Regions from separate parts of the Homo sapiens genome. Here region 2 is linked to region 1. A link means that fine-mapping ties the variant in region 1 to the expression of a gene that starts in the linked region. Tissue or cell type: monocytes. Region 1 holds a variant in brackets; the other region holds the start of a gene. All regions are shown on one strand. Distances are between the middles of the regions.

What was found. PIP is the estimated chance that this variant, and not a neighbour inherited with it, causes the effect.
Region 2: DENND5A starts here. The variant in region 1 is fine-mapped to the expression of DENND5A in monocytes (TOPMed, PIP above 0.99).

The regions. Positions count from the first base shown.
Region 1 is chr11:9,093,730-9,096,484 of GRCh38, forward strand. It overlaps the pseudogene KRT8P41. Among named protein-coding and RNA genes, the nearest start is that of SCUBE2, 3.5 kb to the left of the region's middle. RefSeq lists enhancers at 1,585-2,086, 2,087-2,586 and a silencer at 1,678-1,883. The variant G/A (reference allele first, on the strand shown) is at 1,166.
Region 2 is chr11:9,263,828-9,266,454 of GRCh38, forward strand. DENND5A (DENN domain containing 5A) reads right to left here and starts at 1,523. Exons shown (of 23, transcript NM_015213.4): 1 at 1,134-1,523. The coding sequence starts at 1,242. RefSeq lists enhancers at 55-394, 555-674, 1,755-1,824 and silencers at 965-1,324, 1,375-1,474.

The DNA.
Region 1 (2,755 bases):
TTGGTTGGCTCTACTCTGGCTGCAGGCTGCCCTCTATTCTGCAGCTGAGGTCCCCACAAACTTCTCAGAAAGGCCTCAGACACCGTCCCTGGACTGAGGCTAAAGCTCCCTCTTCCTCTCCCTGTCTCCTCTCCACAGGCTGAGAGGCCATGAACCAGGCCTCAGGGGTGCGAAGAGGCAGTCCAGCCAGCCCAGTCACACTGGTGTGGGCCTTTGAGGAGGCTGAAGAAAGCCTGGTAGTGGCCGGCCATGCGTGCCCCTGAACTACACATAAGCAGGTGCCACTCTGCACTCATGGGACACCATTCAGTGCCCACCTTTCTTGACTCCCCCCCCGCCCCCAGCAGCCTCTGACATGTGGACTACTTCTCCCTGGTGGAAACTCTCCTTACCCTTGGTTGTCATCGTGGCAAACTCCTGGTTTTCCTCCTACCTCTCAGGAAATGCCTTCTCCACCATCTTCTAGGAGTCCTCTTTCTATACCCTCTCTCTGGATGGTTCACTCATTCCCTTGATTCCATAATGTCAATCTCCAGCCTGGATTCATCCCCTTGGTTCAATCCCATGTATCCAGTTGCCTACTAGATACCACCTTGATCTTCCCTAGATCCCACCTTGATCTTCCCTAGATCCCTCTGATTGAACATGTTCAAAACGAAGCTCATGACCTAGAAGAAGCTTCTCTGCTTTCTCGAATCTCTGCCTGGTTCAGCCCACCCACCCCTCCACTACTGCCTCCACCATGTCCATCAGGGTGACCCAGAAGTCCTACAGGGTGTCCACCTCTGGCCCCTAGGCCTTAAGCAGCCGCTCCTACACAAGCGGGCCTGGTGCCCATATCAGCTCCTGGAGCTTCTCTCAAGTGGGCGGCAGCAGCAGCTTCCGGGGTGGCCTGGGCACCCGCATGGCTCTGGGTGGAGGCTATGGTGGGGCCAGTGGTATGGGGGGCATCACAGCCATCATGGTCAGCCAGAACCTGCTGAGCCCCCTTAAGCTGGAGGTGAACCCCAACATCCAGGCTGTGTGCGCCCAGGAGAAGGAGCAGATCAAGACCCTCTACAACAAGTTTGCCTCCTTCATCGAGAAGGTGCGGTCCCTGGAGCAGCAGAACAAGATGCTGGAGACCAAGTGGAGCCTCCTGCAGCAGCAGAAGACAGCTCAGAGC[G/A]ACATGGACAGCATATTCGAGAGCCACATCAACAAACTTCGGCGGTAGCTGGACACTCTGGGCCAGGAGAAGCTGAAGCTTGGCAACATGCAGAGGCTGGTGGAGGACTCCAAGAACAAGTATGAGGATGAGATCAATAAGCGTACAGAGATGGAGAATGAATTTGTCCTCATCAAGAAGGTAACGTGGCTGAAGCTAACATGAACAAGGTAGAGCTGGAGTCTCTTCTGGAAGGGCTGACTGACGAGATCAACTTCCTCAGGCAGCTATATGAAGAGGAAATCTGGGAGCTGCAGTCCCAGATCTCGGACACATCTGTGGTGCTGTCCATGGACAGCAGCCGCTCCCTGGACATGGACAGCATCATCCCTGAGGTCAAGGCGCAGTACAAGGAGATCGCCAATGGCAGCTGGGCTGAGGCTGAGGGCATGCATCAGATCAAGTATGAGGAGCTGCAGACACTGCCTGGGAAGCATAGGAATGACCTGCGTTATGCAAAGATGGAGATCTCTGAGATTAATAGGAACATCAGCCGGCTCCAGGCTCAGACTGAGGGCCTCAAAGGCCAGAGGGTTTCCCTGGAGGCTGCCATCGCAGATGCTGAGCAGTATGGGGAGCTGGCTGTTAAGGATGCCAACACGAAGCTGTCGAGCTGGAGGCCGCCCTGCAGCGGGCCGAGCAAGACATGGTGCAGCAGCTGTGCCATGGAGCACCAGGAGCTGATGAACGTCAAGCTGGCCCTGGACATCAAGATCGCCACCTACAGGAAGCTGCTGGAGGGCGAGGAGAGCTAGCTGGGGTCTGGGATACAGAACATGAGTGTCCATCTGAAGACCACCAGTGGCTACTCAGGTGGGCTGAGCTCGACCCACGGGCACCTCACAAGCCCTCTACAACAGGCCTTAGCTACAGCCTGGGCTCCAGCTTTGGCACTGGTGGAGGCTCCAGCTCCTTCAGCCGCGCCAGCTTCTCCAGGTCCATGGTTGTGAAGAAGGTGGAAACGCGAGATGGCAAGCTAGTGTCCAAGTCCTCTGATGTCCTGCCCAAGTGAATGGCCATGGCAGCCCCTACCAGCCTGCCCCTCCTGCGGCTGCCCCAGGGCCCGTGGAGGAAGCCGCTGTGCAGTGGAGCACAGGAACAGGAGACTCACCTGAGGCTCAGCCCTAGCCCTCAGCCCACCTGCTGGGGGAGTTTACTGCCTGGGGCACCCCCATTGGCCATGCTTCCAGCTACAAAACAATTCAATTGTTGCTTTTTTTTTTTTTTTTTTCAAAATAAAATCTCAGCTAGCTCTGCCAACTGTCCAAAACAAACAAACAAATGGAGCTCATCTTCCTCAAACCTGCTCCTTCTCAAGTGCTCTCTCCTTTAGACAAGGGCACCACCATTCTGTTAACACCAAGTCAGAGGTTTGGCGGTCATCTGGGACTCCATTATCTCCCTCCCCACCACATCCGAACAATCAAGAAAATTCTACCTTCTTATTGTCTCTTAAAACCATTCTCTTCCTCTGTGCCCATTGCCTGAGCTCAGGGGTTCGCCATCCCTCATCACCCCTGGGGGCTGTGTATCTATCCCTTTCCTCCTTCC
Region 2 (2,627 bases), 170 kb after region 1:
GACAGAGCGAGACTCCGTCTCAAAAAAAAAAAAAAAAAAAAAAAGAAACACTGGACTTTTTCTGGTGCCCAAAAACAAAACTGTCTTGTCATCGTTGAAGCCGAGTAAGATTAGTCAACAGGATAATCACTTTCGAAAGAGAAACTTTACAGTGACAGAAAAGTGAAAAGGAGTCCCCCTCATCAGGATGACACAACCTTAAAGTACAACCCGACAAACCTCCACCCACTTGAAACCCACTAACTGGAAACTCCAGACAAAAACTTATTTTCAAAACTGTTACAATTCAAAGACTCCAATGACAGTGCAGTGGAAAATTCACGGGGACTGTATAATTTTCACGGCCTTCTGCAGTGAGTGCCAAATCTGGTCAGGGCCCCATCTTTGACTCCCCTCATCACTTTCCCTTTCAAATATGACTTGAAACGCATCAGAACACACCAAGCCTCTCCAACTACAATGCTGCTACCCTTTTATTCACAAACGCCTCTGTCCTCATAAAGGACATAAATTACTTTTCAAAAAAGGCATGGCCCCGGGATACAAGCCCTTTCCAAGGCTAAGGGAGTTCCTACTCTTCTTGGTGCCGCCCAAGTTCACTTTATTACTTCATATCCCATCCAGACGCGCAGAGCTGCAATCTGACTCAGGGGGCCCAGCCCAGGGCTGGGGTATAACGGTTTTGAGGAACTAGTATCACAAGCTTCTTGGGAAGTGGCCAGATAAACTCACCAAGTTTTTGTTTTCCTTTTTTTTAAGTCTGGGTGGAACTTACTTTCACTAGGACGTGGGACGCCTTCCCTCCCTAATGGGTGCCAGAGGACAAGCTTTCCTTTATTTTAAACGAAGTCACTCAACCTACACCAAACTGAGAACACACAACCCTCCCTCTTTCTGGTCGCCGAAGACGTGGCCACTGCGCAGCGGGCCGTAGGTTTGGACCCCTCATGGCTCAGAGCCCCTCATCCGTTTCCCCCCTCCAGTCCAAAGCCCCCTTCGCCCGCGCCCGCCCTGGTCCTCCCGGCCGACACTCGCCCGGCTCCCGGGACAAAGCGGGGCTGAAGGAAGGTTTCTTCTGGGGTCCCCGACGACAGCGGGCGCGGGAAAGCGCCCCGGGCTCGGCGCGCACTCACCCGACAGCTCGTCCGGCTCCAGCCCGGTCTCCGTGTCCAGTCCGCAGATGACAAAGTAGTCGGCGAAGCGACTGGGCGCCGAGCCCCCTCCGCCGCCGCCGCCACTCATGGCGCCGGGGCCGAGACCGGCCGGGCAGTGCGGAGCGGCACCGAGCCCCCGCAACCCGGGCGCCCGCCCGTCCGCCCTCAGGCCGCCCCTCCCGCCGCCGCCGCTACCGCGGCTCGGGCCGCCGCCCCCGGCCCTGGCCCGGTCCCCTCGGCCGCCGCGGCTGCCGTGACGGGGCGGGGGGGCACCGGGCCGCCCCGCACCGCATCCTGGATGCCTTCCCCTCCGCGCCGCCGCCGCTGCAGCTAGCCGAGAGCGCCGCGGCCCGAGCGAGCCTGGAGAAGGGCGGAGAGCGCGTGGACAGCCCCCACCGTGACCCTCCTCCTACCGCGCCTGCGCAGGCGCCGTCTGGGAGGGGGCGGGCTCCTGGGGGAAAGGATGACGTGATGCTCTTCGGACCCCGCCGGCCGCAGCTTCCCGGGAGGTCGCCGCAGCGCAGCCGGTGACTGCTTGGTCGCCCGCAACTGCCACTCCCCCGGGATTGAGACTCCTTTAGGGAGGGCTGAGGAGGTGCGAGAAGAGTGGGCGCAGCCTGCAGAGCCGGGCATTTGGCCCATGCTCTGCCCCCAACCACCCACCCAGCAAGCAGAGGTCCAGAGATCTTAGCGCGGCCTTGCCATGAGGATGGGGTCTCACGACTGAGCTCGGAAGCTCACCTAATCCTAGCTGCAGCGTGTCAGCCTAGACCCCAGACAGGGCCTTCTCCCTGTCCTCTCTTTTGGCAGGGGCGGATGAGCCGGTTTTATATTTACCCTTATTTTACAGACGGGGAAACTGAGTCTCAGAAAGAAGCAAGGACTTATCCAAGGTTACGCTGAGTCTAAGAGACATAAGCCTGGTCTGGAATCCTGGGCTTGTGGTCAGCTCCCCGTTCCTCGCCGCTCCCACCTCCCAGCCTGCCCTTTTCCCACGCTCTCTCCTTTTTTCTCTGGAAGCCTCCAGAGGCGCCTGCCATTTGGGAGCTCCTCTTCCTCTTCACTCTGTGAAAACTCTCAGATCCACCCCTAAACCTGTTTTCCTGTAAGAGGATAGGGAGGAGGCGAAGGGAAACTTACCTATTGGTCCTTGTCCTAGGACCCTCCGATTTCCTTTCCCATAGAAGCTAGGCAGATGTGTCTTTGTTGGAAACTGGAGATCAGAGGCCAGAAAGGCAACACAGGTATAGTGGTCACTAGCATGGGCTCTAGAAAAAAATGCTCGGATTTCAATCCTGACGATCATTTACTTTTGACCTTGAGCAAGTTAATCTCTAAGTGCCTGGCGTCATGGTTTTTGAGACAATTACATAAGGTAAATGCAAGTACAGGTAAAACAATGAGAATACTGCCTGGAACATGGAAATCACTCAGTAAATATTACAGATTTTTTTTTTCAAGACGGAGTTCTGT